2 separate regions of the Homo sapiens genome follow, and region 1 is linked to region 2. The links come from fine-mapping of genetic effects on gene expression. A gene starts in region 2. The other region holds a variant in brackets. All regions are shown on one strand. Distances are between the middles of the regions. Region 1 holds the start of SNORD88C (small nucleolar RNA, C/D box 88C). Region 2 holds the start of KLK1 (kallikrein 1).

Region 1 (4,231 bases), 20 kb after region 2:
TACTCCAGACCACAAGGTTCATGAAAGGAATCTCCTCACTAGAAAGAAGAAAACAACCCAAATGACCAGGGACCCGCTAAACAAAGCGTGTTCAATTCACACAAAGGAGCCCGTTGCCATTGTTCAGTGAATGAGATAATTCTGTACGTACTCATGTGGGGAAACAACTTATGGGACAGATTAGAGTGGAAAAAAGTATCTTTATCCATAATATGTGTGTGTGTGTGTGTGTGTGTGTGTGTGTATATATATATAAAGTCCATACCAGGCCAGGCGTGGTGGCTCACACCTGTAATCCCAGTGCTTTGGGAGGTTTGAGGCAGGCAGATCACTTGAGGTCAGGAGTTCGAGACCAGCCTGGCCAATATGGTGAAACCCTGTCTCTACTAAACATGCAAAAAAATTAGCTGGGCGTGGTGATAGGCACCTGTAATCCCAGCTACTCGGGAGGCTGAGGCACGAGAATTGCTTGAACTCGGGAAGCGGAGGATGAAGTGAGCTGAGATCACACCACTGGACTCCAGCCTGGGCGACAGAGCAAGACTCCATCTGAAAAAAGAAAACATAAAGTCCACACCAAATTGTTGACAGTGAAACTCCTAGAAAGTGAGTTTGGAGTAGAGAAGTTTCATTTTTTAATTTTCAAAATAATCATATAAGTGGAAAGAATGTATAATCCTATCAGTGGAAAGACACTCCTGAGATCTCCAACCCTACCAAGAATCCAGGCCCCCAGGCCTTAGACCGTCAAAACTGAGTGGGAGCCCCAAAGGCCTCCCTCGGCCCCAGGAGTCCCAGCTCCCAACCCCCTTTTCTCCCAAACACGGGAATCACGACCCCAGCCCCTCCTCCCTCAGACCCAGGGGTCCAGGCCCCCATCTCCCGCTTCTCCAGACACAGGGTCCCTCCTTCCGGCCCTTGCGTCACCGTGTAGGCTCCGCCTCTAATTCTGCGCCACGTGGGCGCTTTCCCAGGACGGCCCCCTGTCAATCTCCACACTGGCCCCGCCTCCAGCCCAGTGGCTGGGACTTAATTTGGGTCCGGCCCTTCGGCTTGGGCCCCGCCTCTGCAGCCTCACTCAGCTCAAGCCCCTGCCGCGCAAATAGTCCCAGCGGATTCTCTCTCGTGTCGGGCCGCCCTCGGGGTCCTTTCTCTTCACGGCCCATCTTTGATGCTGTCTTCAGAATTGCCGGACGCAGGGGACAAGACAATCGTTTCCATCATATCCTTGCCCCTTTTTGTCAGCCCCAGAGACAGCGTCTCCTCGCTTGTTCAGGAAGATTCTAGCGGAAGCAGGCAGTATTCCTTTCCCTAAGCATGAAATGGGGTTTCCCAAACAGGCGTGTGTATTGGACGCCTCGGGCGGAGCGCGGGCTGGCGCCGAGGACCGGCCTTGCGAGCGGCGCGCACTATAAAATGGCGCGTGCTGCAACCCGCGCCCGCTTCGGAGAGAGAAATGCTGGGGTGAGGTTCTTAAGTTTATTACTTTTTCCGGCTGTGTGGAAAGACGCACGTGTCCTGAAGGGTTCGAGGCTGCGACGGGAGCGGCCATGTAGTCGCGTGGAAAGGGTCAGGGCGTTTGCAAGGACCCAGAGAGCGCCCTCCGGGGCGAGCCTGGGAGTTTTCTGCGGGGATGGTGGTGGCTGTTTGGGCCGCCTGGGAGTTTGCGACTCCTATAGCTGGCGCGAGCGGGGATGCTGGGGCGGACCCCCCTCCGTCTGCCCCGCGGCGGAGCTCGCCCCTTGTGCTGCCCGCACGCCGCGGGCCTCCGCCATCTTGTCGATTTGGTTGGGGGAGAGGGGTGGGCGGGCTGGGAGGCGACATTGAGTTCTTTCCGAGTGTTTCCATTTTCGTGCTACCTACAGGTGCTTCCTTAGGAATTCTCTCTTGCTTTTAAAATTCTGGATGGCTGGCATTTTTGTGCAACCTAGAACAAAGACTGGGGGACGGGAGAGGGTTTTGGGGGGTTCCATGGGGGCACAGATAGGGTATCGAGTTACCAAAGAAGTGAGAGTGAAGTTTCTAGGTGAATTGCCGGGTTTGAGAGTCGTGTAGGAATGGATATAGAAGGAAGCAAACGAGGCCTTTGCTTACCTGCGGGAGTCGTTCTGACCGTTCATGCCACGTGAGAGGGTTTTGTTAACGTTAGTTTTTGGCTTAGGTCCTTTAAGGTCTTGAACATCGGTTTCCTGACTTGAGCGGGGCCCATGCCCCTGCCGAGGAGGCTCAGCCTGGAAGCAGCTAGCCCATTTCCTATCTCCCCCACCACGACCCCAGCAAGGATCTCTACTTGACTTACCTCCTTCAGGCAACCACCTAGAAAATCGTTGAGTTTGTTCATGTC[A/G]CAAGTGAAAGTATTTTTTCATGCATTCATCGTTGGCACGTCGTCCTTTGGCAATATTAAAATCTACCAACAAATGGGAAAAGTTAACATTTGCACCATCTTGCCATATTCAAAAACCTTGTGCTTAAGTGTTTTGAAAGTAAGTTTCATGGCCGAACGCGGTGGCTCATGCCTGTTATCCCAGCACTTTGGGAGGCCGAGGTGGGTGGGTCGCTTGACCCTAGGAGTTCAAGACCAGCCTGAGCAACATGGCAAAACCCCATTTCTACAAAAAAATAGTAAAGTGAGCCAAGCGTGGTGGTGCGGGCCTGTAGTCCCAGCTACTTATGAAGGAAGTGGGAGAATGCCTTTAGCCAAGATCGCGCCACTGCACTCCAGCCTGGGCAACAGAGCAGACTCTTACTTGAAAGAAAGGTTCATATTTCACTCAAAATAGTGTACTTGTGTACCTACAGTAACATTTTTCTACTTAATGTTATTAGCATTGTCACCCTTAATACTGCAATTTAACAATCTGCTTTGTGCCTGTTGTTCCTCAGTCATCTTCGAAATGTCTTTTACAGCTGATATGTTCAAACCTGACTCAGTCGAGGGTCTCTCCTCATTATTATTTACAAGTTGGCTTTGTTTCTTCTTCCTTCTCTCAATAAGTTCTTCCAGGGGATTTGTGTCTTGGCAGCTTTCTCTGTTTATGGGTTATGTGCAGATGTAGGCAGTGCTAAAGAAACCTGCAAACAGTGGGGGATGAACACCGGGGACATCTTCATGTAGTGCATTTGGGGTCCTACCCATCCCATGAGGACAGTCCCCCGAGGACCTGTGACACTGGGGAGGTTGGGGCATCTTGGTGTCTCCATGAGCAAAACTGGTCATTCCTACCTTCTGGATGAGTTTTGCATTTCCTACTCTTTTTGAGACAAGTCTTGCTCTGTCGCCCAGGTTGGAGTGCAGTGGCACGACTTGGCTCACTGCAACCTCCGCCTCCTGGGTTCAAGCAATTCTCCTGCCTCAGCCTCCCGAGTAGCTGAGATTACAGGCATTCTCCACCACGCCTGGCTAATTTTGTATTTTCAATAGAGACAGGGTTTCACCATATTGGCCAGGCTGGTCTCGAACTCCTGACTTCGTGATCTGCCCACCTCGGCTTCCCAAAGTGCTGAGGTTGCAGGCGTGAGCCACCGTGCCCGGCCGCGTTTCCTACTCTTTAAGCTCTGTTAGCTTGGCCTCTGTCCCTGAAGGTAAGTGGCCTCAGGACCTGGTTGCAGAGGGGCTGGGGCTCCCATGATGTCCAGCACTGGGCTCTGATCACCCCTGAGGACACAGTGCACCCCAGGACCTTTGACACCTGGGGGTCTGAGGGGCCCCAGTTTTAATGGCTTGTGGACTTGCAGACTGTTTCCTCCCCCACTCTCACTGTGTCTTTCTGTGTTACAGGTGCAGCTTCAAGCTTAGGACCACCCACCATGCCTATCCAGGTAAGAACCCTTGCTCCTGCTCCTTCACTCACCTGGGTTTAAAATATCTCACTGTCTAGGTTGACTTCATACCGTACCTCTAGAAACTGATTGATGTGCCAATGATTGTACTCAGTGTTTACATACAAAAACCATCTCAGGCTGGGCGCAGTGGCTTACACCTGTAATTCCAGCACTTTGGGAGGCTGAGGTAGGTGGATTACCTGAGGTCAGGAGTTCGAGACCAGCCCAGCCAACATGGTGAAACCCCGTCTCTACTAAAAATACAAAAAATTAGGCCGGGCACAGTGGCTCACGCCTGTAATCCCAGCACTTTGGGAAGCCGAGGCAGGTGGATCATGAGGTCAGGGGTTCAAGACCAGCCTGACCAACATGGTGAAAACCCCCATCTCTACTAAAAATACAAAAAATA
Region 2 (4,510 bases):
TGACGTCCCTTGTGACAACACCACCAAGCCTGGTGTCTATACCAAAGTCTGCCACTACTTGGAGTGGATCAGGGAAACCATGAAGAGGAACTGACTATTCTAGCCTATCTCCTGTGCCCCTGACTGAGCAGAAGCCCCCACAGCTGGCCAGCAGCCCCGCCTGACATGGAACAGAACGGAGCCATCCCCCAAGACCCTGTCCAAGGCCCAGATGTTAGCCAAGGACTTGTCCCACCTGAGGACAAAGCTGGCGCTCAAGGTCACCTGTTTAATGCCAAGATAACAAAGCGCTGATCCAAGTTGCTCTGTAGGAATTTCTGTGACTTTTTTCTGGGGTCAAAGAGAAACCCCGAGACACTGTACACTGTTCCTTTTCACCCACCACCCCGATCCCTAGGTGAGGAGAAGCGGCTTGAAGCAGGGCTCCATTCATTCAACACACATGACCACCCGTGTGATCTTGAACAAGAGGCCCAATCTCACTTCGCCTTGGTTTCCTTATCTGTAAAATGAGACCATCTTATTGCTGACTTCAAAGGGCTGTTGTGAGGATTAAATGAGATGATTCGTCTGAACTGATTAAAATCGTGTCTGGCACTGAGTAAATACCCTCTATCTCTGGATCCCAGTTAAAGGACCTAACAGACACTAGATTACCAAGAATGGCTTTTTCTTTAAGGTTTAGTTCTGGGCCGGGCATGGTGGCTCACACCTGTAATCCCAGCACTTTGGGAGGCCAAGGCGGGCGGCTCACTTGAGGTCAGGAGTGCAAGACCAGCCTGGCCAACATGGTGAAACCCCATCTCTACTAAAAATACTAAAAAAATTTAGCCGGGCGTGGTGGCACACGACTGTAATCCTAGCTACTTGGGAGGGTGATGTGGGAGGATCGCTTGAACTTAGGAGGCAGGAGTTGCAGTGAGCCGAGATCGCGCCACTGCACTCCAGCCTGGTGACAGAGCAAGACTCCATCTCAGAAAAAAAAAAAAAAAAAAAAAGATTTAGTTCTGGGCTTCCTGGTAGCCATGGCAAAAAGGCAAATACTGTCCTTTCCTTAGCCAGGTCCCTGATATACAGCAGAGGCTGGAACTCTGAGCTGCTTTGATTTTACCAAAAAGCCAAGACAACCTGTTGGAAGCCTATGGGTTTACCATTGAGGCTGCAGGAATCTAGTTCCTAATTATCTTCAGAGACCACAAAATGTGATGTTCAAGGTCGCTGAATGTTGAAGTACATGAACCTGGCTCGTGAGACCTAAATATTGTACTGGTGGTGGGGGGGAAGGGTCATTGGAATCTGTGGTTAGCCTGATCTTGACCTGGGAGGGAAGGTTGTCCAGATCTCTGGGACTTTGGAGGACAGGACGTTGAGCACCCATAACTGGGAGCAAGAAGTGGGAGGCTCATTGAGACCCCAGCATTGTTTGGGAGGGACACTGGATTTTGTAATGCTAAAGAACTTACCCTGGGAGACCCCTGAAACTTCACATTCCTGGATCTGGAGGCACTAGGAATGTGGTGATGTGTACCCCAAAATTTTATTATGAAAGGAACAGTAGCTTTGGGGACCTAGGTCCTGGGTCTGGGAGTGCAAGAACCAGGGCATTCTGAAGGCCAAGGCTTATATTTCAGGGGGAACTGGCAGCTGAGATGCTAGTATCTTGGCTCCGAGTGGTGCAGGGAATCAGAGCCCTAACTGCTGGTGTTTGAGGGCACCAGGTCTGGGGGTGCAGGGCCTTAATTGAGACTGAGGTATATGGGGCTTTGTACCAGGGGTCACTGATTCCTCCGTCTTCCTGTTTCTGCTTCCCCTCAGTCCCCCCTTGCCTCACTGGCTGCTCCCCAGAGCAAAGCCCCAGAGCCACAGGCCCTGCCCCACCTGGCTTCAACCCCAGGAATGCGTCCAGCGTGATCCAGGGCCTGCAGAACAGGTGCTGGTTCTCCCTCCCCGTCTACAGCTCTGGGGATCGGAGGGGGGGGGGGCAATTGTCCAGCCCCCAGGCAACAGGGGAAGGGCCTTGGCCAACATCTGGGTGCCAGCAGGGCAGGGGTGGGGCTCTGAGGGGATAAGGGCTTTTAAAAGCCTCCCCAGGGAGGTTCCCCAGTTCCTCCACCTGCTGGCCCCTGGACACCTCTGTCACCATGTGGTTCCTGGTTCTGTGCCTCGCCCTGTCCCTGGGGGGGACTGGTGAGACAGTGGGGGGATGTGGGAGGGGGAACGGGCCCTGATTCTCTTGCTGGCCTCACATCCCCCCCCGATAAGACCTTCCCCTCCAACACCCCACCCTCATCCCTCTGGCCCACAGTCTATCCTAGTCCGGGGTGCCCCGGCTCTTATCTATCTTGCGCGGCCCCACCCTAAACTTCCACCCCCGCTCCTCCATGTTGTCATAGTGCTCACTCCCACACCAGATTCCTGCTCCTCCCAGGAAGCCTCAGTACTTTCTCCTCTTCCCTAGCCAACGCCCTGTCCCACCGCTTTACCAAAGGGGCAGATTCTGGGCCATCTCTGTCTCTCTCTGGAGGACCCCAACCCTCCCATGGGCTTCCCCCACCCCACAGGACTCTGATCATCCCCTCCTGCCCCCTAGTTCCCTGCGGCCACCTATTTGGCTCCTGAGTCTACAAATCCCACCACACTCCAGTGACTTTTTCCATCCAGCTGTCCGCTCTCAACTGTGTCCTCCAGACCCTGACATCTGGTCTCCCCAGTCCTTCCAGGGTCCCCCAAATTTCACCAGAAAACCCTGCTTCCCAAACTGGCATGTGGGATCCCCCATCTGGTATGGGGGGGGGTCTGCAAATGTCCCTTCCCACCCAGCACCCCCAGCTCTCCCAGGAAAAACACCACACCCTCCCACCACATGCTCCTTTCCTTGGGGAAGTTCCATCCCGCCCCAGGCCCCAGCCCTTCTCTGCCTGAATTGTTCCTACACAGCTCTGGTTTTCTGGAACCCCACCCCAAGGATCCTGAATGCCTTCTCAGCCAGCGCTTCTGCCCTGGCCTCCCCCAAGTCAGTATGTGATTCTACAACCTCACGTCAAGTGGGTCCTGCATTGCATTCCCACAGCTGCTTGGCGCCTGTTCTCACCACTTCTCCAATCCTCTTCCTAGGATTGCCTCCAAGAGGACCCCATATCCTTCCAGTACCCTCAGACCATGAACCCCATCCCCATGAGAAACGAAGATCCCATCCTTCACCCTGTCCGAGAAGGACTGCCACTCACGCCTCCCTCCTCCTGAGCCCCGTCCCAGTCCTGACCGCAACTGTGTTCTCAGGGCCCCAACCTCCCCTCAGATTGCCATTCCTGGTTCACAGGAAGGACCCCAAAACCTCTCGGAAGCCCACCTCTAGCCTTAACCATAGCCCTTTCTTTTACCCTTTAACCAGGAAGCCCTGAAATCTAACTGTCCCAGCCAAGCTGGCCCCTTCCAACCCCAATGTAGGGACCCCAAGTCACCCCCAAACTCTTCAGTCCAGATGCTCTTCTTTACCTCTCAGACCTGGTTCCCTAAAGCTGCATCCTTTCCTGAACCTCAAAAGCCCAACCCAGGTCCTGTTTCCCTAGCCTAGGAGCCCCTTAGCCCTCCAGATTCTTCCTCAGTGAGCCTCTGATCCTGTCCCACCCTTGGCGCCTTGATCCCTGGTTTCCAGAATCCCTTTCCACTCCCCTAACCCACCACCTCCCATCCCCCAGCCCCAGACCCCAAATGACCTGACGCCCAGATGCAGTGTCTGCTCCAGACACTGTCTCCTGTCTCCTACCCTGATCCCTGGAGGCTGCTCTACTGTCAGAGCACAAAATCTCCCCACCAGGTCCAGCCACCACTCCAAAAGCCCAGGGAACAGTCCAGAGTCCCACCCCTTCCCAACACCCCTTGCCCATGTCCCCAACCTCCAGCCCTGGTCCTCTACCCGCAATGTCCCTTCAGACCCACAGCCCAGCTCCCTCTCCTAGCCTTGTCCCTGGCCTCTCCTGCCAACCCTGCCCTTCCTGACCCAGCACCGCCTCTGCAGGTGCTGCGCCCCCGATTCAGTCCCGGATTGTGGGAGGCTGGGAGTGTGAGCAGCATTCCCAGCCCTGGCAGGCGGCTCTGTACCATTTCAGCACTTTCCAGTGTGGGGGCATCCTGGTGCACCGCCAGTGGGTGCTCACAGCTGCTCATTGCATCAGCGAGTGAGTAGGGGCCTGGGGTCTGGGAGGAGGGCATCTATGCTGCCACAGGATTGACAGGCCAGTGGCATTCCCCTTGGATAACCTCAGGCAAGACTGGGGGGCTGAGGCAGAGAGGAAGGCTCTGGCGCAGGTCGCCTGGCAGGGCAGAGCTGGGCTGGACACCCCTCTCCAAGGCTGCCTGGGTCTCTTGGGATCTGGTTCTGCTTGTGTCTCTGTGTGACTGTGTTCTGGTCTCTGTCTTCCTCTCTCTCCTCTGTCTCCTTGTCTCTGCATCTCCCCTGTCTCTGTCTGTCTCTGAGTCTCTCTGCGGCATCTCTGTCACTGTGTCTCAC

The links. PIP is the estimated chance that this variant, and not a neighbour inherited with it, causes the effect.
Region 1: its variant is the best candidate, but not a certain one, in a credible set for the expression of KLK1 in sun-exposed skin (GTEx, PIP 0.87).

Annotation. Positions count from the first base shown.
Region 1 is chr19:50,801,805-50,806,035 of GRCh38, reverse strand. SNORD88C (small nucleolar RNA, C/D box 88C) reads left to right here and starts at 3,615; the gene lies at 3,615-3,711. It also overlaps the pseudogene C19orf48P and the pseudogene TMEM277P. RefSeq lists a silencer at 813-862 and enhancers at 1,113-1,362, 3,515-4,015. The variant A/G (reference allele first, on the strand shown) is at 2,345.
Region 2 is chr19:50,821,380-50,825,889 of GRCh38, reverse strand. It overlaps KLK1 (kallikrein 1), which reads left to right and starts at 2,103. Exons shown (of 5, transcript NM_002257.4): 1 at 2,103-2,187; 2 at 4,019-4,178. The coding sequence starts at 2,142. KLK15 (kallikrein related peptidase 15) reads left to right here. Exons shown (of 6, transcript NM_017509.4): 6 at 1-601. The coding sequence ends at 94.